Linked DNA regions of Homo sapiens: region 1 is linked to region 2. Evidence: fine-mapped expression QTL. A gene starts in region 2. The other region holds a variant in brackets. All regions are shown on one strand. Distances are between the middles of the regions.

Region 1 (12,729 bases), 150 kb before region 2:
AGGATTTCACCATGTTGACCAGGCTGGTCTCAAACTCCTGACATCAGGTGATCTGCCTGCCTTGGCCTCCCAAAGTGCTAGGATTTCAGGCGTGAGCCACCACACCTGGCCTAAAGCTAGTTATTCCTAAATAATACAATACCTGCTAAGTCAAGTGAATTCATTTAAAGGAAATCAGATTGTAGTCTCTCTCTTTCTTTTTTTTTTCCCTGAGACGGAGTCTTACTCTGTTGCCCAGGCTGGAGTACAGTGGTGCAATCTCCATTCATTGCAACGTCCGCCTCCCAGGATCAAGCGATTCTCATGCCTCAGCCTCCTGAGTAGCTGAGACTACAGGCGTGTGCCACTGCACCGGCTAATTTTTGTATTTCTAATAGAGACAGGGTTTCACTATGTTGCCCAGGCTGGTCTCAAATTCCTGGCCTCAAGTGATCTGCCCACCTCGGCCTCCCAAAGTGTTGGGATTACAGGCGTGAACCACCACACCCAGCCTGTAGCCAGTTTTGTTAATCAAGGGCAGTGTTGTATGGAATATTCTAGCACTGTATAATTAATACAGTCAGTGCTCACACAGCAGTCCTGGTCACTCCATAATTTTCAGAGCTCAAAACCTGAAGAAAAAAAAGCTCCAAATGCAGGGATGTCCATGTCCACAGGAAGACAAAAAAGCAGCTATAGAGATGCCTGTTATTCATTTGCCAGAGGCTTTTCCAGTGAGGACACCAGAGAATAATTCACCCCCAAGTGAAAGGGTATCTGTGGCTGGGTTCACCTACCCACATATATGCCAGGAACTTAAGTGGCAAGGACACAGAAACCTCCAGAGATGGCCAGTATCAGCCTGAACAGGGCTTTGCAAAAGGCCATGCCATCAAGACCCAATGATGGACAGCGGGTAAGCCTCTTGGCAAACAGATGTCAGAGCCAAGAGAGGCTAGCAGTGAGTAGCCAGATCCAGGTCCCAGGGCCTGGGGTGTCAGGCAAGGAGACCAGAGAAGATGAGAGGAATTTCTCATCCAGGAAATAGGACAGGCCTAAGGGTTATTCATAGGTGGATAATTTCTCAATATCAGTATTCTCAGGAAGAAAGGGGTGGGTAAGATCAAGGTGTTTCAGCTTCAAAGACCTTGTCCCTTCCCACCCATTCATTTACATGTATCATACAGTTACAGAGTGCTTACTTTGTGCCAGGTACTGTGTTGGGAATTCAGAGCAGAATCAGAACTGGTCGTGGTCTTGGGGAGCTCCTTGTTTAGAAAGGGAAACAGAAGTCATGGTGTGTTGGCTCATGCCTGTAATTCCAGCACTTTGGGAGGCCGAAGCGGACAGATCACTGGAGGCTAGGAGTTTGAGACCAGCCTGATCAACATGGTGAAACCCCGTCTCTACTAAAAATACAAAAATTAGCCGGGCATGGTGGCACACGCCTGTAATCCCAGCTACTTGGGAGGCTGAGGCACGAGAACTGCTTGAACTTGGGAGGCAGAGGTTGCAGTGAGCCAAGATCACACCACGGCACTCTAGCCTGGGTGACAGAGCCAGACCCTGTCTCAAAGAAAAGGAATAGACAGAAGAGTGGGCTATAACAATGTAATGGGCCCTGCAACAGAGCCAGGAGGCAAAAGTAGTAAGCCCAGAAAAGGGTAAGGAAAGGCTTCACAGAGGTGATTTTTTTTATTTTAAGAGATGGGAGTCTTGCTATGTTACCCAGGCTGGTCTCGAACTCCCAACCTTAAGTGATCCTCCCACCTTGGCCTCCCAACATTCTGGGATTACAGGCATGAGCCACTAAACCCAGCTAGCACAGAGGTGATATTTGAGCCAGGCCTTGAGGGATGAATAAGAGCTCACCAAGAGAAAGCAAGAGAAGGCATAGGAGACTGCATTTTCAGAGTGAGTTCAGGAAACACCCCGTAGGCCAGTGTGGCTGGAGCTCGGTGGGAAATGGAGGTAAGGTGAGGCTAGAAGATAAAGTTGGCCCAGTTGTGAAAGTTCTTGACACCATCCCAAGGAGCTTGGGCTCCATCCTGGGGACAGCAGGGAAGTAACTGAGGAAGCCCTCAGAGTTTCCATATCAGAACAAAGCACGATCCTGGATTACAAACTACGTTGCTAACCTGCTTTCTTCTCTCTTCCTGAGGTCACATCATCTGTCAACTTCCCCACATGGCTTTGGGAACTTAGGCAAATCAAATCATTTTAACCTTTTTGGGCTAAATAAAATAATATGCCTTAAAAATTGTTCAATAACATAGTGGTGAACATTGTCACTTGGGCTCCCAAGACCAGGCACAACCCCAGAGGACCTTTGACATGCCAAAGAGCCATTAAGGCAGATTGGAACGAACATTATTCCCCAGAATTGGTTCATCTTGGGAAAGGAAGGCCTAGGAAGCTGATGACCTACTTGTTTTGTTCATCCATTTCTCTACTGCTTCTTAAAGGTAAAGTGCCTCTTTAGTCTATCAAGAAATTACTATGTGTTTACCTTAGGTAAAATATGCCCATTCCCCTATCTTCCATTTTGGCTGTTTTCCCAGCTGTAAAATGACAAGGCGGTACATTCAATTAGAAGTTTTAAAGCATTTTTAGAGCCTTGAAGTAATTTCTTTTTCCTCAACAAAATCTTTCCAATATATCCAGTTTGAGATCTGTCTTCCCCTAAACCCTCCACCTAAGGGCTCCGAGGGAACTTCAGAGAAGCTTTTAAAAGTTCGGCAGGGCACAGCTGCAAATCCACTGCACCAGATGAACCTAGGAAATGAATCCTCCCCCTGTCCCCAACACTGTTCCCCTTCTCACCCACCCCTTCCAAGGGAAAAGGGAGAAACAGGTCTTTTCGGAGCTGCTGGAAGAATGAAAGGTAATATAAATTCTTTCTCTCCAGTGCACTCAAGCGGTCACCAGGACATCAGAAAAGCCAAATCCAAGGTCCCAAGGCTCTTGATCATCCAGTGCCCACAACAGAGGGAGTAAGCTAGACGGAGAAGCTGAAGTGAAGGAGGAAAGAGAGAAGGGGGTGCCTGTTCCACCCCCTTCCTAGCAGCTGCCTCTGTGGGCTCCATAATCCCCATGCCCTCTCCCCCACCCCACCCTCCGGCCGCCCACCTCTCCTCCACCCACCCCATTCATCAGTAGGAGGGCACTGTATCAGCACAGCCTTTCAAGGCCTGACAGTTCCTTTCTGGGTGCCCCCCACATGTAACCACTTAACCCCCAGCACAAAGGGCCAGCCTGAATGGGCTTGGAGCCGGTGGCTCGTGCGGAGGGGGAGGCCTCAATAGGATTTGGGGAGCTGGGTGTATAAACCGCTCTGCTCCAGCAGCCCTCAATGGAGGAGCTGGAGTTGGGGCATGTGCCGAGGGGAGGAGCTCGGCAGCTGCATCCCGCCCCTGAACAATGATTTATTCATTCTCCTGGCACGCACAGAGAAGACAGGCTGGGGAAACATGGCCCCACAAATCGCCCTCAGCCTCAGCTGATTCCCACGGCAATCATTGCAGTTCAGAGTGCCCCCTCCCACTTGTAATGTTTTGCCTCAAGCTTGCCCTTCCTCTTCCTCGTAAGGAAGTAGACTACATTACGGGAGGCCTTAAGTAGCCTTAAATTCAGGCAAGCATCGTTCTTTGAGTTGGTTGCACCCAAACTCAATCTCACTCTCTCAAAGCTTTCTGGCCAGGTTTTCCTCACACACCCATAGAAACAGATGCAGACAAAAAAAAAAAAAAAAAAAAAAAGCGCATAGCAAAACCTGTCTCCAGGATGGCCCCCAGCAGGGAGTTGGGGAGCTTAGCCTAGAAGTAACTGACAGGTGATGGGAATGTAGTAAATGTTTGCTGGATGAGTTAATGGCTGCTAACAAAAGGTAGTATGCTTGCTGCTGTCACTCCTCTTCCCAGACCCTTTCCTCCTTCTTGTAGTCACATCCATCTGGCTCCAATTCCCAGAAGAATCTCTTAGAAATCTTTGGGGATGAGGGGACAGAATGAAGACAGGTAAGCAAAGATGCTAAAACCTGTAAATAAACAATGCTGGGTGGTGGTGGTGGGGGTGCGGTTTCAAGAAGTCAAATTGTGACAAAAGGAAATTTGCTCTCGCCCTCTTGCCTCCATATGTCATGTCACCAGGGCCAGATCACACACACACATCATCATAATAAATAAAACTGAAAATCAATACCGTTAGCAGAACAGGGAGAGCCAGAATGAAGTGACCATCCTCAGACTGGCCCCTGGGCCTACTGGCCCCAAGCTTGTAATTACCTTGTCACACAGAAAACAAATCTATTGTGGGTGGTAAGTGTGAGAGGTGGGGGATCCCAGGCACGGAGCTTGCCGGACGAGGAGCAGGGGAAGGGGCACAGTAGGAAGACTGATTGGCCTTCAGTGATGGTGGTACAGGAGCTTGAGACTAACAAAACTAAGGCCTGGACAGTTTAAGAAAGTTTTGTTGTTTTAGTCAGGAGGGTGAACACCCTAAGGGAGGTGATCCTGCCCAATACTGGTGTGGGGCGTGAAGTTGCCGGGGAAAAGGCTTCAAGCCCACTCCTGGAGCCTCAGAAGGGCAGGTGGCTAGGATGCTGCTGCCCTCTGGTGGGCATAAAGAGACAGTATCCACACCTCCAACGCTGGAAATCCATTGCAAAGGAGTCTCCGTTCTTTGTTGTTCTAAAGGCTTGGCCACCAGGACTAGTGCATTCATAGCTTGGATTTCCCAGGAAGCCAACTCTGAGACTGTTTAATGTGCTGGATGTTTATTAAGAACCTCCTTTGGGATCAACAGCTGTGGAAGAATGAGAATGAGCAGGAGTGGCCAGAGGAAGAGGCTGATCTACAAGACAAGCCAGTGACAGCCTCAGCCAACCCCACAGGGAGCTCTGAAGCTAGAATGGCCCTTCAGAGTTGACCCAAAATAAGCTAAGAAGGCCAGGCCGTTACACACCTGTTGCCATTGAATGTGGGCTATCCTTGACCTTGGGCAAGGTGCTCTCTGAGGCAATTCCCACCCTGGAAGACTGTCTGCATAGTGCTTCCAACAGCTAGGCCAACAAGGCCTTCATGGAAGGGTCCACCCTCCACACCATAACTCATCAAATATTTGTCAAAGGAACAGCAGGTTTAGATCATGCCTCAGGCTGCAGGCTCAGTTGGGACAGTCTACAAGTCTCAGTTACCGGGGCTGTTATGCACTGATCCTTGGAAACGGTGAGGGGGGCCTTAATGCTCAGATTCATGGATTCATTCATTCAACGAGCATTTGTTGAGATTTACTCTGTGCCAGGCCTTGAGGCAGACACTTTACAATTTTTTTTTATTTAATCCTCACAACTGTGAAGCTAGTATTAACTCAGATTATTCAGATGAGATCAAGTTATTAAGTAGCTTTCACAGTCCAATGACACTTTGAAAAAAATGCCACTCACAATGGGACAAGTGCTATTGCTGCCGCCAAAGATTTCTCAGGCCAGAAAGGGTCTTGGCTGTCTTCTGTGTGTGTGCATATGTGTATGAACTGGATGGCTTGCTTTCTGCTTTCAGCCAGAACATTTCCTCTATGGCAGCCAAGAGCTATGCCTCAATAGCCTCCTGCTTTAATTCCTTCCTAAAAATGTTGCTGCTCAAGGTAACAAAACCACAAGCTTTTTTTTTTTTTTTTTTTTTCTTTTGAGGCAGTCTCACTCTGTCACCCAGACTGGAATGCAATGCTGCAGTTTTGGCTCATTGCAGCCACAACCTCCAGGCTCAAGTGATTTCCTACCTCAGCCTCCCAAGTAGTTGGAACCACAGGTGCATGCCACCATGCACAGCTAATTTTTGTATTTTTTGTAGAGATGGGGTTTCGCCATTTTGCCCAGGCTGGTCTCAAACCCCTGAGTTCAAGCAAACCCCCCACCTCAACCTCCCAAAGTGCTGGGATTACAGGCATGTGCCACCATGCCTGGCCCAAAACCACAAGTTTTACAAATTCCTGGTTGTAGCTACAGAGCAAGCCACCATTGCCCAAAAGAAAACTGGGCTAGCTCCTTCCCTGGATAGTCAATGGAGAGACAGCCCTGGATCCTCAGTGTTCTTTTAGCCATTTGATCATCAGAAAGTTGATGATAAGTTCTTCCCTAATGTCTAACCTCCATATTTGCTGCAACTCTTTGGAACAATAACATTGAAGGGACAAGAAGCACAGGTTTCTGTTTCAGAAAACTCTCAGTACCCTGCACCTCTCACTAACCTGCCCACTCTGTGTAAGGGACTGAGGGCTGGAAAGATAGAGAAAACTGTCAGCTGCTGTTCTTCTATAGCCCTGATGGGTTCTAATCCTTGGTCAATTAAGACATCCAGCAACCAACATGAAGATTTTAATTTTCTCATTTAGATTCTAATCATAAAGAACTTGAAGGAAAATGAAGGAGGGAGTATGCTTGGAAGTCATGGAACAATTTCTGGGTCTAACTACAGAGACATTCACTCAACCTCACCCTCCCCTCAAACACACACACACACACACACACACACACACACACACACACACACACACACACACACACACGCCTTTCCTGCTGGGCCCCCAGAACCTAATTTTTCACGTTTGGAAAACCCAGATGATTTTTGCCTAGGTCCATCTGGTTTTCCAAATAACCTGTCTTTTTGATAAATAACGTAAGTTAAATTAGACAAGACAAACAAACAGAAGGGTGGGCAGTCAGCCTTTTTCCTTCCTTCAGCCTCTGAGAAAAAGAGATGAGGGCCAAAAAACCCAAACCACGGCTCACTCCCAACCCTGCCTCAGCACTTTCTACCCCTTGGACTAGGCAATAATTCTCCAGCCTGGAGCTGGGAGCTGCCTCTTCAACCCTACATCTAGCCCACCAGCCATCAAGAATTCCGCGGACTACGGTTCTCTCTAAAATGAAGGGAAGGAACTCAGGTGTCCACCCCAACTCCTTCCAATCACCCTTAGGCTGTAGCTACTTCAAACTCCCTTTTCCCATTATGAATCCCACCACAGGGTAGAACTAAATCAATAAACTGAAAATGAAAAACCTTTAAGGTGAGAGGAGAGAGGACAAAAAGAGGGGATGGGAAGGACGTGGATGGTACAGACCAAGACAATAAAACTACTGGGGACAGAAACCAGGCACCTTGGTCTCAAAAGGTAAAATCTGAGGTGACACCAGCCATACACAAGCCACGTCTATCTCCCCAGTTCACTGGAGTCCAGGCATACACACAGGCCTCCATTTCTACTGCTATAACAAGTCTCAGCACATAGCTAGCCACCAATGGTGGACTATGGAGCTTTGTTGGGGCTTGGCTTCTCCTTCCCACTCAGCTCTACCCATTCCTCAGCAGTGAGTTAGCCTGCATTAGTGCAGCCTCTTAAATATGTACATTCACTTCACATTAATTTGTACCTTTGATCCTAACCATACCCTGTGAGCTAAACCAAGTCATTTCACATGAGCCCCATTTTCCAGTTGAGGAAAAAAGAGACTGACTTACCCAAAGTCATGATGCTTACAAGCTGCAGAAAGAGCAAGGACTAAAGCTCTACACCTCTATTCTGTCCTGCACTAGAAAGCTCCTCTGTATATAATTCAGCTCTATGCTTTTCACCATTAGCTCTTCCAGGCCTCCCATCACTCATTGCTCAAAAAATTCATTGAATTATTTTATGTGCCAGGCATGGTGCTACCCAAAGCATACATTTTTCAACAAAACGGATATGCTCTGTTTTCACAGCACTTACAGTCTAGTAGGGAAAGCAAGCCTCAACGAACATTAAAGTAACACATCATGATGACAGACCCAAAAGAATGGGAAACCTAAGGCTGGGTGTGGTGGCTCATGCCTATAATCCCAGCACTTTGGGAGCCTGAGGTAGCTGGATCACTTGAGGTCAGGAGTTCGAGATCAGCCTGGCCAACATGGTGAAACCCCGTCTCTACTAAAAATACAAAAATTAGCTGGGCACTAAAAACACAAAAATTAGCCAGATGTGGTGGTGCACACCTGTAACCCCAGCTACTTGGGAGGCTGAGGCAGGAGAATTGATTGCCCGGGAGGCCGAGGTTGCAGTGAGCCAAGATCACGTCACTGCACTCCAGCCTGGGTGACAGAGTAAGAATCCATATTAAAAAAAAAAAAAAAAAAAAAAAAGAACAAGAAACTCAAACAGAGGTAACCTAATTAAGAAAGGAGTGGTAATGGTCAGAGAAGGCTTCTCTGAAGAAGTTAGGCTTAAGCTAACACCTTCCCCGTCTCTATCAAAAATACAAAAATTAGCCGGGTGTGGTGGTGCGTGCCTGTAACCCCAGCCCCTTGGGAGGCTGAGGCAGAATTGCTTGAACGGGGGAGACAAAGGTTGCAGTGAGCTGAGATCGTGCTACTGCACTCACTCCAGCCGGGGCGACAGAGCGAGAATCCATCTCAAAAAAAAAGAATAGGAAACTTATACAAAGGTAACCTAATTAAGAAAGGGGTGTTAGGCTGGACTTGGTGGCTCATGCCTGTAATCCCAGCACTGTGGGAGGCCAAGGCGGGCGGATCACGAGGTCAAGAGTTCGAGACCAGCCTGACCAACATAGTGAAACCCCGTCTCTACTGAAAATACAAAAATTAGCTGGGTGTAGTGGCGCATGCCTGTAATCCCAGCTACTTGGGAGGCTGGGGCAGGAGAATCGCCTGAACCCGGGAGGCAGAGGTTGCAGTGAGCCGAGATCGTACCACTGCATTCCAGCCTGGGCGACAGGGCGAGACTCTGTCTCAAAAAAAAAAAAAAGAAAGAAAGAAAAAAGAAAGGGGTGTTAATGGTCAGAGAAGGCTTCTCTGAGGAAATTAGGCTTAAGCTAACACCTTGAGAATTATGCATTAGTCAGACAAAGAAGGAGGATGGATGTAGGGGAGGGCATTCCAGGGAAAGAGGACACTTTAGATGCTCCTGAGGCTGCATGTCATGAGAAAGAAGAGTAGACAGCAGGTTGGGAGGCAGAGCTATGTCATGCATCGGCCATGAGAAGTTTGAACTTTGAGTGCAGCGGAAGACATTAAAAGATTTTAAGTAGTGAAGTGTCATCCTCCAAATTATATTTACATAAAGGTCGCCTCTGGCTGCTGTGCAGATTGGATGAAAAGGAAGCAAAAACAGAAGTGGGGGGGTCAGGAGGCTACGGTAGGACCCTAGAAAGAAA[T/C]TGTGGAATCTTGGACCAGGGGGCTGGCCATAGAGCTGGAAGAAATGAGCTGATTCCAGATGCAATTTGGAAGTAGAAATAACAGAACTTGGAAATTGTCTGATTACAGGATTAAAGAACAGGTCAAGAATGCTCTCCAGATTTCCAGTCTGAGTGACTGGATATATGGAGGTACCTTTTACTGAAATGGCAAATACAGGAGGAAGAGCAGGTTTTTAGAGAAGATCACATTTTCATTTTAAGTTTGAGATATTTGAGAAACAATGGGCCTTTCAGAAGTGGCCTACAATATATGATATAATTGTGATACTGGTAATTTCTTTCATTCTCAAAGGAGGTGAATTTCTTTTTTCTGGGAGCTACTGGCAATTTCTTATGCTTACAGAGTGGCACTTGACATAATGCACTGACATACATTTTCCAACTGAAGCCCCCCAGCAACTCTGAGACAGCCATGACTTAGTATCCTCATTTTATAAACAGAGGCTCTGAAAGGTGTAGTGTTATTTATTCAAACTGTGGTAGGCACCACTACATTCCAAGCTGTGTGCCAGGCGATGAGTAGGATATAAGGGTAGAAGATACAATACCATCTCAAGGATGACATAATCAAATAGTATCATGGGAACACTCCTCCCAGAAATACTCTCCTCTATCCTTAGGAGCACAAATCCCAGGACAGGATGCCACAAGAGTGATTAGACATAACCCTAGGAGATAAAAACCAAAAACACCCCCTAAAAAGTCTCCCAGCCTGAGCATTAGAAACTCTCAAAGTGAGGAGAAGTTTGTAGAGAAGCAGTTGAGAAAATGAGGGATGCCACAGAGATCTGAGTACCTTGTCTCTAGAGCTTTGGTGAATAAAATCTTATGGTTTATGGAAGAGACCCTAGTATGGCTGTGCAACTGTGAATTAATGAGATGAAATTAGAGACCTGTTTAAAGAGGTTAATACCATGTATCCCTACTCAAGTGTATGGAACAAGGAAGAAACAAAAACACTGACACTGAGCCTACCCTATCTCCCACACTCATGGGCTCTCATCCCTCCAAATATGTAATTTCCAAGCTAGTGAAGCTGAGTCCTCCTCAGAGCCATAGTGGCAGGTCCTGGGGCTTCAATTTCATTAAAACATAACTGATGCTGCTGGCTCAGTGCTTTGGGCAAAGGGCATATGGGTCAGATTGAAACTGTCCATGTCAATCCTGTTACCAAGATCAAGGCTTAGCTTACTTTATAGCAGCCATCCTGGCATAAGGAAAAGTAACCCAGAGTTTGACTCAAGTTTTCTTTCTCCAAAGAGTGCTTTCTCCCAGGAGCCTCAATCAGAAACCATTTTCTTTCTTTCTTTTTTTTTTTGAGAGGGAGTCTCACTCTGTCGCCCATGCTGGAGAGCAGTGGCGTGATCTCGGCTCACTGCAACCTCTGCCTCCCAGGTTCAAGCAATTCTCTTGTCTCAGCCTCCCAAGTAGCTGGGACTACAGGCACCTGCCACCACCAAGCCTGGCTGATTTTTGTATTTTTAGTAGAGACGGGGTTTCACCTTGTTGGTCAGTCTGGTCTCCAACTCCTGACCTTAGGTGATCCAGCTGCCTCAGCCTCCCAAAGTGCTGAGATTACAGGCATAAGCCACCACGCCCAGCCCAGAAACCATTTTCTCCCTGGATTTCTCAGGCACTAATTTTCTTTTTTTTTTCTTTTTTTTTTTTTTTTTAGAGTTGGGATTTCACCATGTTTCCCAGGCTGGTCTCGAACTCCTGAGTTCAAGCAATGCACCCACCTCAGTCTCCTAAAGTGCTGGCGTGAGCCACCGGACCTGGCTGAATTTTCTTATCCTCAGTTGTCAATTCCAATTGTCTTTTCTATCTCTCCTCAAAAGACATGTAGGGAAACAAGAGGGAAGAAATATCTAGCCTTCCTGCTCAGTTCTCTTTTGCCCAGCAAGGGCTACTTTGCCTTGGGAACTGTTTAGAGAGTTCAAAGAAAGAGGCAAAAACATGTATCTTGAACCCATGGATAAAATGAAGTACATACAAACTTAGCTAAAGAGAAAGGCCAATCAAAGCTGTAACAGGCTGGGCATGGTGGCTGAGCCTGTGACCCCAGCATTTTGGGAGGCCAAGGTGGGAGGATTACTTGAGGCCAGGAGTTCAAGATCAGCTGGGGCAACACAGCAAGACCCTGTCTCTACTAAAATAAAATAATTAGCTGGGCATGGTGGCATATGCCTGTAATGTGGCCCAGCTATTCCAAAGGTTGAGGAAGGAGGATGCTGAAGCCCAGGAGTTCAAGGGTACAGTGAGCTATGATTGTGCCACTGCACTCTAACCTGGGCAACAGAATGAGACTGTCTCTAAAAAATAAGTTTTTTAAACAAAGAGCTATAATAGAAGGTACCATTTATGTAAACTCAATTATCCTCTTCACCTGAGCTGAACCCAAACCACTTGGTAAGTTAACTTGATCAATTCACTAGGACTGAGAAGCCAGTGAGGGGACAATTGCAGCAGCTTCTCAGTTTAGACCCAGAGGGTTTCCCTGGGATGGAGATAACCTGAAAATGAAATGCTCCTCAAGGTTAGACAGGCACTGACCCAAGAATGAGCATTCAAGCTGGACAGCAAATCTTCCCTTCAAGGCATTAAGATTTATTGAAAAACTACATACATATTAAAACATCTTTATACACATTTTCCCCATTATAAGATTACAAGTATACAAACATAAGTATTGTCAAAGTCAACATCTTGAGTATTAGAAAACTGTAGAAAACCGGCCGGGTGCGGTGGCTCATGCCTATAATCCCAGCACTTTGGGAGGCCGAGACGGGTGGATCACCTCAGGTCAGGAGTTCAAGACCAGCCTGGCCAACATGGCGAAACCTCATCTCTAATAAAAATACAAAAAATTAGCTGGGAGTGGTGGCAGGTGCCTGTAATCCCTGCTATTTGGGAGGCCGAGGCAGAATTGCTTGAACCTAGGAGGCGGAGGTTGCAGTAAGCCGAGATCATGCCATTGTATTCCAGCCTAGGTGACAGAGCCAGCCTATGTCTCAAAAAAAAAAAAAGAAAAGAAAAGAAAAGAAAAAGAAAAAGAAAAGAAAAGAAAAACTGTAAAAAACCTACAACCTAATTGCATCAATTAAATTGGTGTTCCCATCTCCCAGTAAAAAACTGGCACACTCTCTTCCAACTGCCCAAGTACAGGTCCTGACACTGAAACCACAGTATTCACATGGAATGTTTTTCCAAAGCAGCACTGATGCTCAGTTCTGAGGGGAAAAACATTTGTCTAAAATTCTGAGAAGCTTGTGGTAGTTCAGGGAAAATGGAGAATGATGGCAATTCTCTTCAATAATATTTTTATTAAATTCCATGGTGGCCTTCTCTCAAAATTAGTAATGAAATGCTGAAATGTCCATTGATTAGTGAGGGCAATGTATGTAAGCCAGAAGAATGCAATAAATAAGGGTTATGTTTCTTCTTGTCAGACCCAGAAGGGAGATCTTTGAACAACAGTGCTTCAAATTGAGAATTCAGTCCCA
Region 2 (12,763 bases):
ATGGGAGGAGGTCCAAATATCAACAAAAATAAGGGTTTGGAAGACATTGATTCCAACTGTCATGGATGACTTTGAGGGGTTCAAGACATCAGTGGAGGAGATAATTGCAGATGTGGTGGAAACAGCAAGAGAACTAGAATCAGAAGTGGAGCCTGAATATGTGACTGAATTGCTCAAATCTCATGATAAAACTTGAACAGATGAGGAAATCCTTTTTTTTTGTTTGTTTTTTGTTTTTTTTTTTTTGAGACGGAGTCTCACTCTGTTGCCCAGCCTGGAGTACAGTGGTGCGATCTCGGCTCACTGCAAGCTCCGCCTACTGGGTTCACACCATTCTCCTGCCTCAGCTTCCCGAGTAGCTGGGACTACAGGCGCCTGCCACCATGCCCAGCTAATTTTTTGTATTTTTAGTAGAGACTGGGTTTTACCGTGTTAGCCAGGATGGTCTTGATCTCCAGACTTCGTGATCCGCCCACCTCGGCCTCCCAAAGTGCTGGGATTACAGGTGTGAGCCACTGTGCCCGGCTGGAAATCCTTCTTATGGATGAACAAAGAAAGTGATTTCTTGAGGTGAAATTGACTCTGGTGAAAGTGCTGTGAACATTGTTGAAATGTCAACAATATATTTAGAATATTGCATAAACCTAGTTGATATGGCAGTGACAGTGTTTGAGAGGATTGACTCCAATTTTGAGGGAAGTTCTACTGTGGGTAAAATGCTATCAAACAGTATTGCATGCTATAGAGAATTTTGTTTTTTAAGAGACAGGCTTTGGCTGTGTCCCCCAGGCTGGAATGCAGTGGTGCAGTCATGGTTCACTGCAGCTTCGACCACCTGGGCTGGGCTTAAGTGATCCTCCTGCCTCAGCCTCCTGAGTAGTTGGGACTGCAGGCATGCTCCTCCACACCTGGCTAATTTTTCTATTTTTTGTAGAGAGGGGATCTTACTCTATTGCCTGTGCTCATCCAGGGCAGCCTGTCCAAAGCTGCTAGGCTTTCCTGTTCTGCCAGGCCAAGTTTAGGGTTTTGGGGCCTTCGTGTGTGCTAGAGAAGATGCAGGAAAATAGGCTTGATCTGGGTCAGTTCGGTTTCAGGCTGGGTGAAACTGAACCGTGAATCTGCATAGAGTGTCAGAACCAGGGACAGCTCCTCCTGTCACCTTTGCTGCCTTTCCCCTGGCTTGGGCTAGGGAGCGAATGGGCAGATTTCGTGATGGTATACTTCTCTAGCTTCTTTTCTCAGTGCTTCTTCCTTCCATTTTTATGCAAGAATATTACTACTGATAGTTCCTGGTGTAATGTGCTATTTCTCACTTCATACTTTCTGTTAATGCTGCTTAGTACACCTTTCTCCCATCTTTCCTTTGCCTGGCTAATTCCTGCTCATCCTCACAGGCCTGTTTAAGTAGATATCTCTTCTATGTAACCTACCCTGATTATCCCAGACTAGATTAGACATACCTCCTCTTAGTTCCCATGTCGCCCATGTGCCTCTGTCATTACACTTAAAGTTTCATTGAAATTATCATCTATACTGTCCAGTACAGTGGCCACTAACCACATGTATTAAGCATTTGAAATGTGGCTAGTCTGAATTGAGATGTGTTATGTGTAAAATACACACTGAATTTCAGACTTACATAAAAATATAAAATATTAGTAATTTTTTTTTTTGAGAAGGAGTCTTGCTTTGTCACCCAGGCTGGAGTTCAGTGGCATGATCTCGGCTCACTGCAACCTCTGCCCCCTGAGTTCAAGTGATTCTTCTGCCTCAGCCTCCCCAGTAGCTGAGTAGCAGGCGAGCGCCACCACGCCCAGCTAATTTTTGTATTTTTAGTAGAGATGGGGTCTCACCATATTGGCCAGGCTGGTCCTGAACTCCTGACCTCATGATCTGCCCACCTCGCCTTCCCAAAGTGCTGGGATTACAGGGGTGAGCCACTGCACCCGGCCCAATATTAGTAATTTTTATATTGCTATGTTGATTTGGGGGGTTAAATATATTACTAAAATTAATTTCACCTGTTTCCTTTTTATTTTTATTTATTTATTTATTTATTTTTTGAGATGGAGTCTTGCTCTGTCACCCAGGCTGGAGTGCAGTGGTGCAGTCTCGGCTTATTGCAATCTCTGCCTCCCGGATTCACGCCATTCTCCTGCCTCAGCCTCCCGAGCAGCTGGGACTTTAGGCACCCACCACCATGCCTGGCTAATTTTTTTTGTATTTTTAGTAGAGATGGGGTTTCAACTTGTTAGCCAGGACAGTCTCAATCTCCTGATCTCATGATCCTCCCGGCTCGGCCTCCCACAGTGCTGGGATTACAGGTGTGAGCCACCACGCCCGGCTCCTTTTTAATTTTTATAACATAGCTAAAAGAAATTCTAAAATTACATATTTAGCTCATATGATACTCCTGTTGGACAGCACTGATATATGTATTTGTTTCTTCTTAGCGGTATGGACTGGCTCAATTACATCCTTGTATCTTTGAATTTCTGGGGCACACTACATGGGGATGGGTAGGGATACCTGATGCTCATCCTCAGAACTTGGAGGCTGGAGTAGCAAATGTCCAATAGACATTATTACATTATTTTCCGTCCAGGAACTCGGCCTCTTTCTCTTCTTAACTCAGGTTATTTTGTATGTCTTCTTATTGGTTCTTATAGATTTTCTCATACAAATCACATACATCTCATGAAGTTTATTTCCAAGAATTTTGAATTGGATATTTTATCATAATTAGTTATTACTGGTACCAGCAGTGAATGCTACAGATTTTTGGTTATTTTTTTGAATCCTTTTACTTATTTAATCTGTTAATTATACTACATTGATTTCTTTTTTTCCTCAGTTGTTTTTTTTTTTAACATTAAAAGAGGAAAATGTAGATTGGGATGCAAACTTTTCTCAGGCCATTCTTATTATATTGGCTCCAGGAAATTCTTTGTATAGAGAAGATATCTAAGTAGAAGACTCTGGCCCACACAGCAGAGGCCCTTAGGTGTGAGTTAGCTATGGACTGAGATGCAAGGATGAAATGGAAACAGAAGGAGCCAATAGGTTTGGTGGAACATATATCAGGGATTACTGAAAGAAGTTTATCAGCATAAAAAAGTAAAATGCAGGGGCTGAGCACGGTGGCTTATGCCTGTAATCCCAGCACTTTGGGAGGCCGAGGCGGGTGGATCACCTGAGGTCAGAAGTTTGGACCAGCCTGACCAACATGGAGAAACCCTGTCTATATTAAAAATACAAAATTAGCCAGGTGTGGTGGTGCATGCCTGCAATCCCAGCTACTTGGGAGGCTGAGGCAGGAGAATCGCTTGAACCCGGGAGGTGGAAGTTACTGTGAGCCAAGATCGTGCCATTGCACTCCAGCCTGGGCAACCAGAGCAAAACTCCATCTCAAAAAAAAATAAAAAAAAGTAAAATGCAGCTGGGCGCAGTGGCTCACTCCTGTAATCCCAGCATTTTGGGAGGCCGAGGTGGGCGGATCACCTGAGGTCAGGAGTTTGAGACCAGCCTGGCCAACATGGCGCAAAAATTAGCTGGGTGTGGTGGCATGTGCCTGTCACCCCAGCTACTCGGGAGGCAGAGGCACGAGAATTGCTTGAAGTTGGGAGGCAGAGGCTGCAGTGACCCAAGATTGTGCCCCTGCACTCCAGCCTGGGCGACAGAGTGAGGTTCTGTCTCAAAAAAAAAAAAAAAAAAAAAAAAAAAAGCAAAATGCTATCTGGATTTCCATTTTACTCTGCCACTTTGCCTAGCTGAGAGTGAAGTCCCTGATTATAGGTGCACTGTACAGAAGGACTTTGAGAGGCTGGGGCCAGGCTTGACTTCACTAGCTGCTTTGGAGATGGGTCAGAATAGTGACTACTGCCTTTGCACAAAGTTAAGTATGAGGTTGAGTATTTAGAACAGGGGAGTCAGACTCTTCTTATGGAATGCTGAGGTTCCAGCTCAGTTACATCAGGGCAGAGGTCTTTCTGAGACCTTTGAGAGTTTTTTGAGAGTTTTTCTGAGTGCTTTTTGATGCCATCTTGTTGATTCAGGTAAACCCAAATTTACTGATCATTCTAGGCACAGCTTGTGCCAAGCACTAAAGGAGGACAGCAGTGTATCTGATATTGTCCCTGTTTTTAAGGAACTTAGATGGTAGTGTGGAGCCAGGTGTGGTAGCTCACCTTTGCCCTGGTGTAACTGAGCTGGGACCTTTGCCCTAGTGTAACTGAGCTGGGACCTCAGCATTCCATAAGAAGAGTCTTTGGGAGGCTGAGGCAGGGGGATTGCTTGAGCTCAGGAGTTCAAGACCAGCCTGGGCAATATAGCGAGACCCTCATCTCTACAATAAGTAAGTAAATAAATAAATAAAAAGTCAGGCATGGTGGCATGCACCTGTAGTCTCAGCAACTCGGGAGACTGAGGTGGGAGAATTACTTGCGCCTGAGAGGTGGAGACTGCAGAGTCCAGATTGTGCAGCTGCACTACAGCCTGGGTAACAGAGTAAGACCCTGTCTCAAAAAAAGAATATAGTGTGAGAGGCAAGTAATGATTATGATAGCAGCTGATATTTTGCTTGCATTCTTTTTAGGCACTGTTCTAAAGTGTTTTTGTTTCGTTTTGTTTTTTGTTTTTTGAGATGGAGTCTTGCTTTGTCACCCAGGCTGGAGTGCAGTGGCATGATCTCAGCTCACTGCAACCTCTGCCTCCCAGGTTCAAGCGATTCTTGTGCCTCAGCCTCCCGAGGAGCTGGGACTACAGGCGTGTGCCATTATGCTCAGCTAATTTTTGTATTTTTAGTGTAGATGGGGTTTCACCATGTTGGCCAGGCTGGTCTCGAACTCCTGACCTCAGGTGATCTGCCTGCCTTGGTCTCCCAAAGTGCTGAGATTACAGGCGTGAACCACTGTGCCCGGCCACTGAAGTGTTTTTATGTATTAACTCATTTAATCTTCACAACAACCGAATGAGGTAGGTACTATTACCACTGCCATTTTACAGAGGAGGAAATTGAGACACGGAGAAGTTAAATAATGTGCCTACTATTACATGTCTAGTAAATGCAGGGCCAATATTGAAACCGAGACAGTCTGGCTCCAGAGTCTTTGTTCTTCACCTCTACTTCGTATGTAAAGCAGTAATTCTCATAGTCCCCAGATCGGCAGCATCATCAGCCTTATCTGGAAACTTGTTAGAAATGCACATTTTTGGGTCCCACCCAACACCTACTGAATCGAAAACTCTAGAGGCAGGGCTTACCAATCCAAGTTTTGTTTTTTGGTTTTTGTTTTTTTTTGAGACGGAGTTTCACTCTTGTTGCCCAGGCTGAAGTACAATGGCGTGATCTCAGCTCACTGCAACCTCCCCCTCCCCGGTTCAAGCTATTCTCCTGCCTTAGCCTCCTGAGTAGCTGGGATTACAGGTGTCTGCCACAACACCTGGCTAATTTTTTGTATTTTTAGTAGAGACGAGACTTCACTATGTTGGCTAGGCTGGTCTTGAACTCCTGACCTCAGGTGATCCACCCGCCTTGGCCTCCCAAAGTGCTGGGATTACAGGCGTGAGCCACTGCGCCCAGCCACCAATCCAAGTTTTAACAAGCTTTCCAGGTGATTCTGATGGTTGCTGTTTGAGAACCTCTAGAAGCAAGGCATGGTATAAGTGTCAGAAATTAATCTCCTCATGAGTAAGGACCGGTTATGGTCCATCCCTTAAGTTCCCAGCCTCTGCATGGCATCTAGTGTAAAGCAGGCATCAAAAATTTGTGAGTTTATGGGAAAGTGATGTTTGAGCTGGGTCTCTTACCCCGCCTATCACTGCACCAGACCGAATAGGAGGGAGAATGGGAGTTCCCAGAAACTTTGAGACTAGCAAGGAAGTGGTTGTGATACGTCTAGCAAGATATGATAAGGGTCTGCACCAGCATAAGAAACCATCAGAATGGCAGTGAATCATGTGAGAGCAGTTCAGAAGGTAAACATGTCAAGACGTGGTGAACAGCTGAATAGATGGAAAGAACAAGGGATAGAGGAACTGTCATTTCTGACATGAAGGTGCTGTTCGCTGAGATAGGAAGCACAGGGCAAGTATGTTTGTGAGTGAAAGATAAAGTGTTTGGTTTGGACTTCTTAAATTTGAAGTGCTGGTAGGATATCCAGGTGGAGCTGTCCAGCAAACACTTGGAAATGTGAGTATGAGACATGGTTGGAAACAGAGATTTGGAAGGATAGTTGGGCCGTAAGAGTGGATGAGACCTTTAAGGGGAGAGTGGAATGAGAAGAGAGCTGGGTTTGGAACCACAGTGAACAGTTAATGAGGCAAAAGCAAAAGGGGCCCTTTAGAAAGACTGAAAAGGACTTAGGCAATAGGAGACTGCAGAAGATGCCGCAGCCAAGTAGAAGGCTCAGAAGGGAAGTAGAGGCACAGTGACAGATGCTGCAGAGAAATAATTGAAAAGTATCCTTTGGATGTCAACCCCAAAAGTCATTTAAGTGACGTGATGAGGGCAGAAGCTGATTGACAGTTCAGGCATGAACTGTAGATGAGAAAGTGGAGGCAGGTGCTTCCCAGGTCCGGCGGATAGAGCTCTGTAGCTGCACTTAAGTTCAAACTGTGACATCTTCCAGGGTAGGCCGCGTCTCTACTTATCTGTGGTCTCAGCGTCCAGCACATGGCGTGGAAGAGGGGGTGGCGTCAGTGAGTTCAGTGACTAGGGACGGAGAAAGACTTCGTGGAGGCAGTCGCTTTGCAGCCAAGGCTTGAAGGATGAGGGTGATTGGGAGGAGAGGTGGGAGGCAGGGCCCCTGGGCGCTGGAGTGCCAGGGGGTCTGGGAATGAAGTGGGGTTCCCATAATGTGTGCGCGCAGCTCGGTGCGACAGGCGGGGGCTGTGTGTAGGTTTGGAGGGACCTATTTGGGGAAAAGACACAGGGCTGAAGGCTGCTGTGGCGGGATGTCCCTTCGCCCTGCCCCACTTATACCACTGCGCGGTTCCAAGGCACCTCTACTGGCGCCCTCCCGCCGGGCTGCATGGCGACGGGTGACCGCCAGGGGCCGCTGCCTTGGGTCCCCGGTGCCCCCGCCCCTCTCCATTGGCCTTTGTTGCCGTCGGAGCGCCCCGCTTGACTCGTTCCGGTCCGCCCCCTGGGCCCGGCGGTCGCGCCTGCGCACTGGCAGCTGGCCGGGCGCTCGCAGTGGGAGCTGCTGCAGGCTCCGCGGCGGCGGCAACGGAGGCTGCGGGGGCGGCGGCGCGAGCGGCCGGGCTTGGTAGGGGAGCCGAGCCCGGCCCGGGATCCCGAGCAGCGAGAGTGTGGGGTACCTAGGCCCCTCACGCTGGACTTCACAGTCTCCGGGCCGCCTGACCTCCGCACGGGTATATGGGATGGAAGCGGGACCCTCGGGAGCAGGTAAGGGTCCCCAGGAGGGGGAACGGTGCATGCTCCAAGGACTGGGGGATCCCGCATGAAAAGCGTGGTTTCCAAGTGATGGAAGCGCTCCTGAGTGAGGAGAAGGGCTCTCCCACGATGGGGGCCCAGTTTGAAGGAGGCTGTGTGCAGTTCCGGGGGAGAACCATGTGAAGAGAGCCCTGAGATGGGGGCTGTTTGTCCAAGGAGGCTGTATACAGTCCTGCGGGTTGGAAGTAATCTGGGAGAAGGGCCTGCACGCACGGAAGGACTCCCAGACATCCGTGGAGGCCTACGGAGAGGCCCGGCAGGTGGCAGGGGACGGGCTCCAGGTGTCCAGGAGAGGAGGGGGCGACACAGATGGGCCTGGAGCTACCGCATGCCGGGGGCGGGGGCTCCGCTGGGCTGGAATAGGCTAATGTCTCTTGGGAGAAGGCGCCAGAGCTGGACTGTGAGCTCCGCCCCACTGGGCCTGACGCGAGGGCGAGGGTCAGGGGGCGGTGGGTGGGGACCCAGTCCCGGGATTACCCCCCGTGGGTCTGGGGAGTCGGAGCGGAGGCTCCAGAGCATGCGCGGAGGTGGCAGCTGGAAGGGGCTGCCCGACGTGGTGGGGGCGTGGCTGTCCGAATACCCCCACCTCTCCACACCCCCCCGCCCCGCCCCGTTTGGCTTGGAAAAAGGAGCGCGCTGATGGGGTGCATTCTCTCTTAGGTTATGCTGGCAGTGTGCAAATGGTTATGGTCCCCTCCCCCATTTTAGGGGCTCTTACACTTGGCCCTCAGTCACAGTTTGCTAAGAATGGGTTGAGGGAAGCTGCCAAAGTGCATTTTTCTGCCACAGGAAAGACTGGGACCGAAGCGATGGGTTCTGGGGGTGGGTCCTCCTGAAGATAGGCCTTAGGAAAGGTATTGGTTACGGAGGAATCAAGGACAGGGCAGGGGCTACCTGGAAGGAGTTGTCTGCTTGGTTTGCAAGTTTCTGCTCCAATACTGAGTAGTGATGGGGGCTTTTAATCCAAAGATTTTCCATTGAATTGTCTGTTAAGGTTACACTCTACATTTATAACATTTATTCTAATATTTCTTAATATTTTCATGGCTCCTATCTTCCACTGGATATCTTTCCGTTTTCCTCTCCCCACTCCCCAGAAACTGTCAGGGCTGTCTTTAGAGCCAAGATCTAAACCCTACAAACACGTTGGAGGATGGGGGAGTTTATAGCCTTCATCCTGGTGAGGCCTAGGTGATAGCCTTAACTTCTTATTTGCAGGCAATGAGGAGGAAAAGACATAGGAACAGAGGATAAACTGAGGCAGGATTGCCTCAAGAAAACTGGAGTCCTTAGGATGGGCTGTGGGGTGGTGATACCTCTTGTGTCTTAAGTGTCTTACCCTGTGATGGGACGAGGAGCCTGGACCTGGGAATCCTTCAGGTCATCTCTCACCACTTCCTTACATTTGGTCTGGGGATGGGAATCAAATTTCCATTTAGGCCATGAACTTCATTACTTTCCTAGTGGAATTATTTTGTTTTTTTTGTAGCAGACCTAACTCCCTCCCACCCTCCCAAGGAAATAGCTCCTACGACCTCACTCAAGTTATCCATTTAGTGATCTCTAAGTACTTAGTGACTGTTTTCCCTCTTAACAACCAGCCTTGTATAGACTGTGTAGTCGTAAGGATAAGCACAGGGAGCAACTGACTTGAGTACTTCCTCTCTGTCAGGACCCTCTCTCCATCCCAGGAACTTCTGTTTTTCAAGGCTGGGGACTATTTCCAACAACCCATGAACTAGAGTAGTGGGGTAGGTCATTGAGGTCCACATGGATTGCTGGTTGCTGGTACCCATTCTAGACTAATGATTTTTATCCTGATGAATTCCTAATAGGCTCTGGAGTGATGAAAAATTGACTTTTTAAAAATTTGTTACAAAAAATAAGCTTATAGGAAAGGAGCTAGAACCTGCTGTTTGGAGTCAGCCAAAGCCTTGGGAAAAGCCGAATAGGACAGGCTTTGCCTCAGTAAAGGGTATAATTGAGATTCAGTCTGGAAGCTGCAAATTGAGGGACCCCATAACTGCCTCCTTCCTAGGCCCGGACTGTTCTCTTATAAGAAGTTAGAGTGGTGTCCCAAGGTGGCCTGAGGACATAATACACAAAACTAAAGCGTTGTGTAAAAAACAACAACAAAAAACCCCCCAAAAACTAAAGCATTGTTGCTAGCCTCACTGGGCTTATGCCCAGGTCTGCCTTCTGTGCTCAGGTGTGTTCCAAGCACATACAGTGGACTGGGTGCTCCCTGAGGGTAGAAGCAGTGTCTGGTTTATTTGTAGAACTAGCAAGTGCCTAGTGTATAGGCCCTGGCACAGAATACATGTTTATTAATTAAATCAAATCACATTCAAGTGTGAACATAAATGGTTAAGCACGTATGTGGATATTTAATAAAGTGTATACTCACATGGAACAGATCCTTTTTGGAGAGATTGGCTTGTTAGTCTTTGCTTGCCCACCAGCTAACCTAACCTAACCTAACCTTGAATTTGTGTCTTTTGAATAGGCAGTCTGGCTCCTTGGGAGGTGTGTGGGCCTCAGAACTGCAAGAAAGGAATCCTGAGCCAGGGTTTTCAGCTCTGTTACTTTTCCTTCTCTGGGCTCCTTGGGGATGGGGGAGGGGGAGTGTCCTTTTCAGGGCCCCTCCCTCCTTGCTTTTGTCTGAAGAGAAGGGTCCCGCCCCTTTCCCCCTAGGCCCAAGCTTTGTCCTCTGTGCTGGGGCCCTCATCTGCATCACAAAGTGGCCGTCTGTCCCTGTCTGGGTCTGTAGGGAAGTGTCTCCCTTTCTCAGACTAAAAGCTGGGGTAAGGGGGGCGGGGAGGAGACAGTGCTGTTGTTAGGCTTTCAGGGGGATGTAATGGGAGAGAGGTTCCTGCTTCCTGCTGTCTTTCCTAGTTTGGAGATGAAGTGGGGGTGTGGGCTCCCCTGTTTTCCCAAAGCCTCTTTGGAGAGGAAGGTGCTCTAAGGCTATGTGTGGTATGTAGTCGGGTTTCTGGGGAAGAGAAGGCTTTGAGGCTAGAGTGTCTGTCCCATCCCCCATCATTTCTAACTAGCCCCCCAGCTCTAGGAGTTATCTTTCTCCGAAGGCCCCAAATGATTATTCAGTCTGGGAGGGGAAGAAGGTGAATGAAATATAAGAACTTGGGGAGGGAAAGGATGTCTCTTACTGGCTACACCCACAAACGTGCATATTTGTCTTGTGTAGTGTTTATAATTGTTTCTGGGCAATTGCAGGTGTTCGTGTGTCTGTGTGCTGTGTGTGCTTGTGTGTTTTTGTGGTGTGTCTATGGATATGTTTGTTCATTCATTTCATATCAGTATGTTGAATACTTCCTGTGTGTGTGTCAGACACTGGAAATTAAACAGTGACCAAGGCAGATATAGTCCCTGCCTTTGAAGAACTCAGTCTAGGGCAGTGAAGGATATGTGTGTAAGTGTAAATTGCCAAGGTCTAAGTGTGTGTTTGGATGTGTGTGATGGGGATGTGTGTCTGTCTGTCCGTGAGCTTGTGTGCAATTTCTGTCCAGCACTTTCTGAGGTAGGCAGCCAGGTGCTAGTAGATAGGTTTTCCCTTCCCCATGTAGCTGAGTTCTGAAGACCTTTTCCATCCAGGCTGGGCCTTCATTTCCCTGTCTGCAGAGTGGGACTGGGCTTGGACAGGTGGTTAGAGGGAAACAGAGCAGCTTAGCTCTGGGAAGCTGCCCCTCCCATGAATGGTTCTGACCTCTTCCTGACCCCCAGCTGAGGGTATGCCCCATCCCCCCAGCTTGTCTGACTGTGAAAGCAGAAGTCTGATAATGGGAGGTTCTGGGCTGGTTTATCCCTCTCTTCTCCCACCTGGGCTAGTTCTCTACTGCCAAGAACAATAGCAGCATATTATTCCCTTTTTTTCTCTCTTCCCCCCAAGCTAGAAAATAAGACTGGAGACAGCAGCCAGACTGGCAAAAGAGGGTAAAGTAGCTGGATCTGGCCTTACCCTATCCCTTTCCCAAGGGCCTCCTCTGTCTTGAAATTGATCTCTTCTGCTGCTGTCTGGACCTTCTGTGTGGAAGGATCTGTGGGGCATGGAGAGAATCTTGTGTTCTTCCCAGAGCCAGTGTCTCTTCTCCAGCATTCTAATTGCCACCTCTTCTTCCCAAACCCGTTAGTTCTTTCTTTATTCAAGCTTTTTTTTTTATCATTGTCTCCCCAGTTGCTGCTTTGTTTCTTCCTGCCTGAGCTTCCAACCCTAACCTCTTTTGCCCCACCCCTTGACTCCAGCCTTCTCTTTCTCCTGGCCTTTTTCTTTTGTGACCTCCAGCTCTGTCCTCTTCTCCAACCCCCTTTCTCTTTTCCTTAGTCTCCAAACTCTGTCCTTTGAGCCTTTTCTCCTTTTCCCTGTCTCCAACTCTCGCCATTCAGTTGCCTTAATTCTGCCTCAAACACTGACCCTGCCCTCTCCAGCCTGGCCTTGTCTGGATCTTATTCCTGCCCACCTATAAAGGAACATCAAGGTTATGCCATTTTGTATTCAGCATGGTGGCGAATGGAGTGAGCATCTGGCTGGCAGAGAATAGAAATTCTTGGTCTGCTAGATACCTGGTGGAGGCAAGTGTCTTACTCTACTAGAAGAAAGAAAGGGTTTTGTTACTAGGAGCCAGATTTAGTCTCTCTGCTTAACATGCAATAGGAACTTATTATATATTAACTTAATGAATTAAAAATAGACAATAAGGATAATTTTCCTAACTGGAGAGAGATTAAAAAAGAAAAAAGAGAAAAAACACAGATGAGCTTGAGATGTCCCCTGGAAGCCCTTGGCTGGGTTGGGTAGCAGGAAAGAGGCATTCTCTATACTCTCGTGTTCCTGTTCTGGGAGGCCTTGTTCCTCCTCTGATAAGAGTAGTTAGGAGATTGCCAGACTTTACCCTCACCAGCCTCTTTGTCTTGTAGCTGCGGGCGCTTACCTGCCCCCCCTGCAGCAGGTGTTCCAGGCACCTCGCCGGCCTGGCATTGGCACTGTGGGGAAACCAATCAAGCTCCTGGCCAATTACTTTGAGGTGGACATCCCTAAGATCGACGTGTACCACTACGAGGTGGACATCAAGCCGGATAAGTGTCCCCGTAGAGTCAACCGGTAAGTGATGCACACCTAAGCCACCAAATCTGAAAGACACCAACCTTGAAAGAGGGGCCAGAAAGGTAAAAGAAAAACCAGTAGAGGGTAGTATCACCAAATCTAAGGAAGTTTTTGAACGGGAGATGCCACGTCGGGTAAATGCTGAAAAATAGTCCAATTGGACTTCGCTATTGGAAGATTATTAGTGG

What was found. PIP is the estimated chance that this variant, and not a neighbour inherited with it, causes the effect.
Region 1: its variant is fine-mapped to the expression of AGO1 in whole blood (TOPMed, PIP above 0.99).

What each region holds. Positions count from the first base shown.
Region 1 is chr1:35,722,439-35,735,167 of GRCh38, forward strand. It overlaps CLSPN (claspin), which reads right to left. Exons shown (of 25, transcript NM_022111.4): 25 at 9,674-12,729. Among named protein-coding and RNA genes, the nearest start is that of C1orf216, 9.9 kb to the left of the region's middle. RefSeq lists a silencer at 3,320-3,503. The variant T/C (reference allele first, on the strand shown) is at 9,185.
Region 2 is chr1:35,876,039-35,888,801 of GRCh38, forward strand. It overlaps AGO1 (argonaute RISC component 1), which reads left to right and starts at 7,171. Exons shown (of 19, transcript NM_012199.5): 1 at 7,171-7,408; 2 at 12,389-12,572. The coding sequence starts at 7,384. RefSeq lists a silencer at 6,934-7,393 and enhancers at 9,744-10,383, 11,021-11,080.